Regions from separate parts of the Homo sapiens genome. Here region 2 is reported to be linked to region 1. The links are microRNA targets in miRTarBase. Many come from high-throughput screens and were not tested one by one. Region 1 holds a microRNA gene; the other region holds the end of a gene's coding sequence.
The links. Region 1 holds the annotated microRNA hsa-miR-6068 (CCUGCGAGUCUCCGGCGGUGG, at 3,126-3,146, opposite strand). A microRNA usually pairs through its seed, bases 2 to 8, with sites in the 3' UTR of a target mRNA and lowers its output. Matches are read on the target gene's strand: a 7mer-m8 pairs with bases 2 to 8, a 7mer-A1 pairs with bases 2 to 7 and ends in A, and an 8mer does both.

Region 2: miRTarBase lists BTG1 as a target of hsa-miR-6068. Seed matches in the 3' UTR shown: 7mer-m8 at 4,172-4,178.

The regions. Positions count from the first base shown.
Region 1 is chr1:63,323,839-63,329,219 of GRCh38, forward strand. MIR6068 (microRNA 6068) reads right to left here and starts at 3,146; the gene lies at 3,087-3,146. FOXD3 (forkhead box D3) reads left to right here. Exons shown (of 1, transcript NM_012183.3): 1 at 1-1,290. The coding sequence ends at 657. It overlaps FOXD3-AS1 (FOXD3 antisense RNA 1), which reads right to left and starts at 603. Exons shown (of 3, transcript NR_121637.1): 1 at 517-603. RefSeq lists an enhancer at 2,776-3,644.
Region 2 is chr12:92,139,552-92,144,932 of GRCh38, forward strand. BTG1 (BTG anti-proliferation factor 1) reads right to left here. Exons shown (of 2, transcript NM_001731.3): 2 at 727-4,896. The coding sequence ends at 4,529. It overlaps LINC01619 (long intergenic non-protein coding RNA 1619), which reads right to left and starts at 3,280. Exons shown (of 5, transcript NR_132341.1): 1 at 3,056-3,280. RefSeq lists enhancers at 2,380-2,669, 4,697-4,936, 4,957-5,006, 5,267-5,316, 5,276-5,381.

The DNA.
Region 1 (5,381 bases):
CTGGCGGCGGCGGCCGGCGCCGCGGGACCCTACGGCCGCCCCTACGGCCTGCACCCTGCGGCGGCGGCCGGTGCCTATTCGCACCCGGCAGCGGCGGCGGCCGCGGCTGCTGCGGCGGCGCTCCAGTACCCGTACGCGCTGCCGCCGGTGGCACCGGTGCTGCCTCCCGCTGTGCCGCTGCTGCCCTCGGGCGAGCTGGGCCGCAAAGCGGCCGCCTTCGGCTCACAGCTCGGCCCGGGCCTGCAGCTGCAGCTCAATAGCCTGGGCGCCGCCGCGGCCGCTGCGGGCACAGCGGGCGCCGCGGGCACCACCGCGTCGCTCATCAAGTCCGAGCCAAGCGCGCGGCCGTCGTTCAGCATCGAGAACATCATAGGTGGGGGCCCCGCGGCTCCTGGGGGCTCGGCGGTGGGCGCTGGGGTCGCCGGCGGCACTGGGGGTTCAGGGGGCGGCAGCACGGCGCAGTCGTTTCTGCGGCCACCCGGGACCGTGCAGTCGGCAGCGCTCATGGCCACCCACCAACCGCTGTCGCTGAGCCGGACGACTGCCACCATCGCGCCCATTCTTAGCGTGCCACTCTCCGGACAGTTTCTGCAGCCCGCAGCCTCGGCCGCCGCCGCTGCTGCGGCCGCCGCTCAAGCCAAATGGCCGGCGCAATAGGGACGCGCCAATGGCCGGGACCCAGGGTCCGGCGGCGGCCTCGAGCAACAAATGCACCTCCAGGCTGCGCGCCCTGTCCCAAGCCCGGTCCCGGTCCCGCTGCCCAATCCTGGACTCTGCCTCTCCCCAATTTCCTTTCCCCTGAGCCCCCAACGCCTACCTTCCGCGGCCTCCATCCCCTCGCGCACACCTAAGCTGGTCGAGCAAACTCACCGCGCGCCCGCCGGGGATAGCTTTCCATACAGGTAAAACCGAAAACCGAATTTTCCAAAAATGCACCCCGACGGCGCCTGCTCTTAGTACCGTGGGGATGGGAGGGAAATTCTTTGTATATATTTGTAAAAAAATTATTGACTTTCCTTTTGGGGTTTTTATTTTTTTAAGAAAAAACAAATTCCGTAGATTTAGAGCTCTGAACTTTCATTTTTTTTGAAGGTTCACTCTCCGAAGTTTTATCTGAGAAAAGAATGTATAGAGACGTTGGGAGATTTTAAATATAAAAAATTTTCAAAAAGGCAAAAAGTGTCATTCTATTATAAAAGTCTGTTTATATATGAATGAATATATATGGTATTCTAAATGTTATTCCATCGTGTTGTACACAACTTTGTAAATAAATTTTTAAAATGCCCAGCCTAGTGTTTTATTTAGTTGTCTGAAGTAAATGGCAAGATTTTTAAATGGTATTTATTTGCCTTTTCTCCTCCCCAGAAAATCAAGGAATTTCAAGTAATGGCCTTTTCAAACTTTTTAAATTCATAATTTGAGTGTAAGAAAATTTTAATTGGAGAAAGGAAATAGTATGCCTAATTTAAATTGTGTTACTATTTTTCTTTTAGTTTTCACATAAAATCAGGATGTGAGTGATATCATTCATATCAACCCATTAAATCTAAATGACCAGACATTTCTGTAGATAAAGTAAGCTGTCATTTAAAAAAAGAAACCGAAACAACAGCAGTCTTTAAATTTTTTTAAAAAATGACTAGACTTGTATCTTCCACAATGAAAACTTCCCAAATGAGAGAGTTCTTGGTCATTTCAATTATCCTTTGAAAAGTAAGTAAATTCCAAACATCCCTCTTTTTAACATTTAAATCTTAGATTTTTGAAATTATTTCTTTTCATTCCTTAAGTGGAAGTGGTAAATAGACCCAGCTGGTTTTAAAATTTATGTTAAGGCACTTTACATTTTGCAGTGGGATTTTATTTATGTTCATCTGATAGATAATACATAGTTTTGTTTTCATAATATTTTCAAATAAGATATCTCATTTATATGGCAATAATCAATCCACAACATAATTGGATTTCTGAAGGGGTCCTATAGATGCTTCCTCTCCCTCCAACCCAAAGCCTTTCTGAAGGCCAAGGAATGGTGGCCTTAATACCCTTTTAAAAACAGCTGAACATCACCTCTCTCCCCTTTTTTTTCTTTACCTTAGGCTAGGTTAGTGTGAAATGCGACATCATAGGGCAGGAATGGGGAAGGTCCTTGTAGATTATTTTTAATTTGCATTTCAGCTGTTAAAAACTTTTAAAAGAAAGTATGAAGGTAGAAATGAAACATCTTGATGTGGAAGGCTGGTTCTCACCACCATCAGCATATCCTCAAAAGGCATCAATTCTAATTATTTTGTAATTAATTTAGCTGTTACAATTACTTGTGCGAAATCGCTTTTAAAAACTGGAGCGAGTAGCAGTGCTGTCGGCTCGGCCCTGCGCGCGTCCTTTTGGTTAATCCCGGCCAGTCCCCGGTGTTGTCGTCCACTTTGCCTCCCTGGTGGTGGAGATGCCTCCCCGTCTCGGATCCCACCTCATTTCTCCGCTGTCGACGTGGGCTGGGGGTCGCTTTGAAAGACACTTCCTTGCAAATACCCAATCTGTTTTCCTGGTAAACGGTAAACATTATTGTGTCTTGAGTAAACATTCCTTCGGGATCAGGGTCCTAAAATAAAACAAGCTGCCGGGGGTGAGATAGTTTAACTTGATAAACAAGAACCTGATAACCACCGCCGAGAGAGGAGCAATGGTAACCTTCACCGAGAGGAGATTATGGACCACACGGTCTCCGGGCGGGTCCCTTCTAATCTCCTTTTACAAGGAAAACTAAACGGATCTAATTTTGTTTGTGTGTTGCAGCTATAAAAGTAACAAGTTGTTTCACAGTTGTGTCTGGCTAATCGGTTTTTACACAAACAGCAAATGGTACATGATTTGTGCAAACACATAGAGAGGTTATTTCTAAATTTAGCTGACAGCCCCTGGGAAAAGGGAAAGGCAGGGCTTCTTGAATTCACTTTTAGCCTCAAGAAGCTGCTGATCCAAGGCTTCTAAATGACATTGGATAACAGGGGCCTCATTCCATCCCTGATCCTTTGTTACTTATAAAATTACTCGCTCATATTTCCGCGCATAGCAGCAATACCGGCCGAGCCTGCGCCAGCAGCGTGACACTCAGCCACAAGCCACCGCCGGAGACTCGCAGGGCTTTTTCCAGCGCTACATTCATTAGGCGGCGGGGTGAACGGGAGAGACCTGCCGGCAACTTTCCTTCCAGCCAGTTCTTACCCTTGAACGACGGCCTAAAGATGGTCCCCTTCCTTTATGTCGTGGAAGGCAGGAAACTCTCGGACCCAGACCCTCAAGCTGCCAGCGGTTGTTTAAAGTCCTGGCAGATGTCAGGAAGATGGGCCCGGCCGTCGCACCCTCAAAAGCTCTTTTTCGTTTAAGCTTTTTAAACCTCGAAGATTTAGCACAAAATGGGAAATGCAAATATCATAGACAATGATCGCAAGCACTTAGTGGTGGGGCTGGGGGAAGCCTGAAACCCTTGTTTGATGTTATGGAACGCAGGCACCTGCGACAAACGGCACTGGAAACAGCTCTCTCGTTGAGATTTAAAGTCAACACTACTGATATCCACTTTTTATTCCACTTAAGAAAAAAAAACTAAAGGAAGGGGGGCAGATTTATTTGCAATAAAAGAAGAAAGCGGGTTGATTTTTATGGGGAAGATTTTAGCTTTCGGCTACACACGCATTTAGACGTTTCTACTTTCTCTAGCACTCATTCCTAGAAAAATCAATCCAGCCCTGAGGCCTGTGGCCCCTAGAGCGTTCTCAGGACCAAGGTCTGAGTTGGGACCGCCCGTATCTAGTTCCTCGGAGGGGTGGATCTGGATGTCCGGGGAAAGGCGAATGAAGAGTAGAGCAAAACATGTGCCGGCTGTTGAGGGCTGTCGATGCGATGGCAGATGTGGCCTGTAGGGGGCGACGAGCAGACGGAAAACTTCGCGGTTTGTCTGGAATGGTCCAGCCCCAGCCCCGGACGCCTCTCCTTCCCTCCCAGGCTCTGAGCCTCCTGACATCCTTGCTTATTCTCAGGCCCCGGAAGCCTAGGTCGAATCTCGAGAAGCTGATTTCCTCCTTTCCCCCGCCTGTGTCCTGGGAGGAACAGAGTCCCGAGGGGAGTTTGTCCTAAAGATTGGGAGGCAATAAAGTTTAGTGATGAGGAAACATTGACTTGGAAGCAATTAAGAGTTATATTTGAGGTTATTTATTTCACATGGTTTATAGGGTGAGTCTTGGTAGTGAGAACATGAAAGGCTGACATGAGTGTGTGAGAGGTGGGTATTTTTAACGTGAGTCCCTTGAGAAACTGTCCTGAGGGGTATGTGATCTGAAAGAAAGTGGGTTCCAGAGCCTTGTGTCCCCGGACTCCACCTGTGTCCCCGGTGGTACAAGCTGCAGAATAAAGTAGTGAAGGGAGGAGGTTGGAAGGGCATTCTGAAAGTGCCAGGCTGAACCTTGTGGGGAGCCGTCTGTTTCAAGGGAGGAGGCGACAGGAAGAAGCGGGATGAGAAAGGCCTTGCAGAAGGCGTTCCAACAGGGATTAGGCATTTCCTAACTGTGACTTTGGACAAGCTGCTTGGTTTCTTTCAATGACTGCATTTCCTCGACCCTACAGTGAGAATGAGTCTGCCTGTCACCTGGGCTTACAGAATTAGGTGAGTTGGTGTCAGTGAAAAATGTCTTATAAACTGTAAAGTGCTGGGGGCGTGTACAGTGTGTTTTTTAATGGCTTCTGCACGAAGAAACAACTCTGTTCTAAGCACTGGTACACGGCCAAATACATTGGCTCGGTTCTGAACCATTTGATTTTAGGTATGAAAGGTGGATTTTTCTAAGAGGGGTTGCAGAACCCATCCCAGGAAACTCCCACCCCAGAAGAGGCTTTTAAAAGGTGGAGCTTCCTCCTGGTCTGTAGGCCTTTCACTATGCCTGCGGAGAAGCTCTCGGTGCCCACCCATCCTTCAGCCTGCACCCCCAGCTCCAGGGGCAGGGCATACGTCTCTCTTCTCTCTGGCAGAGCGGCCTACTCTGCTGTTTGCCCCTATGCTTCCACTATCCGAGGCAAGTGGGGAAATCTGAGTCCACCGCTGACAGACTCCCATTAGTGCAAGATGCGGCCTGGGAGGCGAATTAAAGGTAACCAGATCCCAAACTCACTTAAAAGACCACCCTCCCCTTGCTGCCCTCCAACAGTTGGCAGAGTTACACCCAGAGCCAACTTCTCTCTTCGCCACTCCCCCTCCTTGCCCTCTGAGGAATGTACAAGCCATTCTTTGCTCCCTGGGGTACACAAAACAAAATTTGAAAAGAAATGTAAAACTAGCCAGGGTGTCTGTAAGAAAGCATAACCATCTCATTTTTATTTCCCGA
Region 2 (5,381 bases), not on the chromosome of region 1:
ATCTAGAGAATCACTAAAAGTAAATGTACTCACGGGTGAAGTATCTCCTATTAATGCTACAATTTGAAATTATACATAGTGTTTGATGTAATATTCTCCAAATACAGGGATCCAGTTAACTATAATGGTACTAATGTGATGTTATATGTCTGGCCTACACTTGGTCATTTTTCTACCACCAGGAATGAGTCACAAATGGCCTTCACAACTTAAAGGTACAAGAAAAGAGGCTATAATCAAGTGGTTTGTAACAAGACACCTTTAAAAATAGTCTCCCTTTAGAAAATACTGAGACATTTGTGCTTTCCATCCACACCTCCCCCAAAACCAGTTCCCATGAAGTTCCACCTGTACTACCACTTTCACCTGCATGTTCACAGAAACAAATTGAATGCAGAGTCTCCCTGACGATTCATGAACTGCAGAATCCCCAGAGTAGAGATTCCTAAACTCTGCCAAGAGACTGTGCTGTGCAAACCTCTCGATACACAACTATGACCATAGCAAATGAATTTTTATCACCAAACCTTGCAATTCCTTCTCAGTTTAGCTTCCCAGTTTTCATTTTCCCCATCCTTTCCCTTTTTATCCAACTCTAGATTCAAATCATTTCACCTTTGAGCATCAGTACTCTCTTCTAAGCATACGTAATTCCCAAAAGAACACTGCATCTTCAATACTAAAATGATAAATACCATGAAAAGGCTCATAAATAACAGTCAGAAGTTGAACTACATTTTTTTATTCCTATCTTGGACATACTGAGCAATACGAAAAGTGATAAGCCAAGTTAAACCTGCAGTCAAAAAAAAACTGGTGTCAATCATACTCCACAAAGTGTTGAGGAAATGGTATCAATCCTCAGGATTAATACAATCTAAGGCTTACTTGTTTAGGAGCATTTCAAAAATATAACACTTAACATCAGAAGAAAATGATCTATAGGGATAAAGAAAATAAAGATCTATAGGCATAACCAGAAATCAGATCTCATAATGTACAGATTTCTCTATTTACAGTCCCATATATTAAATGATTTAAGGACTCAGTTAAGCAGCTGGGTCGGCTGGTATTACAAACTATCTTACTGTAAAAGATTTTGTGATACTGTTATATTAGTTCCAAATATGAAAATAAACCGGTTATATTTTGATAGCAGCCATATATAAAAGTTCAGTGGCAGAGACTGAGAGATAAGTCTAAAATGTTGGCAGTCTGTATACCTTCAGATAAATAAGAAATCTATTCAGTTTTAGACAATCCAAGATATACTTTTTGAAGACTTCCATGCATAGATAAAACTATTGACAAATGTTCTCCATATAGCCTATCAAGAGGATTTTATCACATCATTTGAAATAGGGGTGAAAAGGGGAGAGGAAGTATCTTTAAACTTCAATATGCAAAGTACAACTTCAGTTATCATACCTCTCTTCTGTAAAGAGGAAGAAGAGAGAGTATCAGAAATGTTAAAAGTCACGCAGGGAGAAGTCCAATAGTAGATTTATTTGCTCCCAAGATTAAAGGGAGCCTGGAAACCTGTAGTCATTAAACACTAGCCATCGGGAATACGGCTTCCTTCCTTTTAACTTGAAGGCCAATTTCATAAACTGCAACACCTATACAAAACAAAATTAATTACTTGCAATGTGTGAGTTATAATGACTTAAGGAAACTATTTGTGCAATGTACCTGAAAGCCACTTTCTGGTGGCCTTTCCAGTCTATTATTATAGAAATATTGCACATAAGGATAAAGACATGAGATTCCCATTCCAGATGACAAAGATAACAGCCGCATTATCCTGCATGAACCAGGGTAACTCTTGCTATACAATCCACTTGAAGCCTTGTTTCAACATTACAGAGGGAGGCACTACTTAAATTTGGAAAAAAGGAAATAATTTCAAAACTACCTGTTAAAACTTAGAAAGTAACACTCCTCAAACTTACTGCCAATCACAACTATGAATTCCTGGTGCCAAAGGCAACAATAATTTTGAAAGTAGTCATCCTATCTTAAAAGGATTTATAATAAAATATTTCAAAACATTCCCCAGAAACAGTGAACAAGAAATACATCACAAACAGCTACTGTACCGCAGATACAGGTTCAGCTCAATTGTCTGGGGAAGGTAAGGTTAAAGTCACAGGAAACAGCTGGTCTCAGAGTGATGTGTGCAAGCCTTTTTCAAAGACAAACTTATAAACAGCTCCTCACAAGCCAGACATCACCTGAATTCTAAAATAAACATTTTTATTAACTGTTTCCATCATTTTCAAAGATTGAAAAAGTCTGATGTCAAGATCTTCAAAAACAACTTTCCATTTGAAAAAAGGCTTTATGATAAAAAAAAAAAATGGTTGAGGTACTTAGTTTCAATGGAGTTACCAGATGAAATGTAGTTGGTAAACAACAGTAGTCAGCACTGGGGTGAGACCCATTTAAAAACAACCCTACCTGGTGTTTTTATTGTAATTCAAGTTTGAAATACCGAGGAGCTTTTTCACAGAATAGGTTTAAAAATAAAACCATAACAATTGGCAAGGGTAGTCCATGTGTTGCGGGTCTACGAATTCTAACTCTCGAGAATGGTGTGCCAATAATATCCACAGACATTTGTACTCTAAATACCTGCATATTCAGTGGCCTATTCCTGTGTTGTCTACAAAATCAGAATAATTTATTCCTGGGTGTAGAAATAACTTCTTAAAAGTTATTTGAGATTACTAATTTCAAGTAATTACTAATTTTATTTCAGACTGCGTATTTCCAGTGTCAACATGTTTACATATATACCAAAAAAAGGCCACTATATGTTAACTGTGTAGAGCAAAATTCAATTTTTCCACTTTCAATTTCCACTGAAAAACGCTGTTATCCTCTACAACTAAACAGCAAGTCCTTCTATTATATGGGGTAGTGAAGTAATCTACACTACAGCATTATCAAGGTTCACTTAGGTTTTTAGTATTTATCTGAAATAAAAGTCTGAAAATGAGGAATCGAGAAAGTCAGCATTTCAACTTTTGAGAATAAAAGTTCATAAACATACCTTTTGTTGAATTCCAGCTTATGTGATTTTTATGTACATCTTGCAGGTGATGAAAAGCAAAAAGCAACCAATCTCTCTGTGGTGTTTAGCCTGTTCTTTAAGACTATGGGTCACCTGCCCCGGGGAAATTTCTAATTGAACAAAGAATCCATGGGGCAAAGTAATTGTTTTTCAAAGGTGGGTCAGAATGGAACATTTATATCTTCACTTCAACAGGGAAGCAATGAAATGTAATCCTTTGAGTATCACATTTTTGGTAGATGCTACCGTGGTCTCTTATCCTTATTTCATGAGATCATTAGCCTGTGAATGTGTCCATGTTTTGACTTTAGAAATTTTTAAAACATGCTACTCCTGTGTTTCCTGTAAAACCTAAACATGTATATACAGAGCATCTTCATTCCTCATCAAATGTTTTTCCAGCATGACCAGTGTGCAACAGAGATTCAGTTTATAGAACCTGTCTTCTAAGAAAAAATACTTTTAGCTAAACCTCTATAATCATGACAAGAGATTGATTAAAATGCCAAGATAAGAAACGATTTATTATAGAGAGAAGAAAAATTTCTCATCCAAAATATAGAAATCTGTACAACTTTGCCACAATCAATATACATGAACTGTACAAATTTACACCAGTTCATAATTTACCAAATAAAAGATGACTAACAAAGTTCACAAAATAGATGGTGGTTTGTGGAAAAGACTTTTACCCAATTAAGTACAAGGAAAGTTACAAACCAGACCTCCACTTTCTAAAAATAAGAAGTTTACTCAGTCTTAGAAAACTACAAGCTAGCAAATGTACAGAGAGCTGGCTGGTGCTAACACCACAGTTGAGACAGTGTCTTTTTAAGGGTCTTTTTTAAAGCCTGTTGCCATGGCAGATTCTGGTCACTTGCTACTTTCAAGGCCAAAAACACAATACAAGGTCTGACCATTTCCCCAGGTCATGCTTACTAGTTTGTCTTTATGTACATTTATACATATTTAAGTGCTAGGTAAAAGTCTTGTAAAATTTCCAGTACTACCATGTTTAAAACGTTTAACTTTCCTATTAAAAGCTGCCGAAAAGGTTAACAATAACAACTTTCAAGTGTAATAGTGCAAATTCCCCTGCGAGATTTACTGCAGAGAAAGATTCTTTGAAATACAGATTTTCTTTAAAAGGATTGATGTAAAAATTTAGGTATGTCTGGGAGAAACTGAAACCACCCTAGGACTTCCCTCCCTAGCAAATAAAGTGATCATTTACTTGGACTCACAGGCTATTAAAATTAATCATTGAAAGGTACTGTCCAAACTATGGCACTGTCACTTAAAATTTTTTTTTTTTTTACCATTCTATCTTGTGCCAGATCTTCACAGCTGTGACATGGTTTAAATTCCATAATCCATCCCCAAGAGGAGCCCACCCAAAGCAAAAATCAAATTTATCCATCATCATCAGATGATCCATCCACAGACTATATCTTAACCTGATACAGTCATCATATTGTAGTTTTTGGAAGGGCTCGTTCTGCCCAAGAGAAGTTCCTCCTTACAGCTGATTCGGCTGTCTACCATTTGCACGTTGGTGCTGTTTTGAGTGCTACCTCCTGCTGGTGAGGCTTCATACAGCACACAGATGGAGCCATCCTCTCCAATTCTGTAGGACACTTCATAGGGGTCAACCCAGAGTGTGAGTTCACTTGGGAGAAGCCTGAACAGCTCCTGACTGCTCAGTCCAATCCGCTGTGCTGCCTGTCCAATCAGAGGATCCATTTTATGGTTGATGCGAATACAACGGTAACCCGATCCCTTGCATGGCTTTTCTGGGAACCAGTGATGTTTATAATGTTCTATAGAAGAAAAGAAGAACAGAGAAACAACGCTTAGGATCGTTAGCTCCCACTGCGGATTCCTCCTACCCCAGGCTCCTTTGAGGAGCGAAAATGAAAACTATCAACTTTTTAAAATGTCCAGGATTGCATCCGTTGTTGTGCATGTGCGGGGATGGAAAAAGCGGGCAGGGTTTTAGAAATAACACAGTAGTACCGGACAAAACAATCTCCAGGAACCAACCGGTTGAGCCGCCAAAACAGGAATCAGGCGCGCAGCCTCGGCCAGTCGGGAAGCCACTGGCACCTATGGCCAGGCGAGAAACTGTTTACTTTCTCCACCCCACCCCAGATGCACACAATGGAGTTGATGGCTTTGGAGATGAGAAGCGCCACCGGACTGTTAACCCCGAAGGGAAGAAAAACAAGCAACCCTAAACCACGCTCTGGGCAGGGCTGTTAATTGTGCCGGTGACAAATCCGATGATTAATGGGCAGGGGCAGGA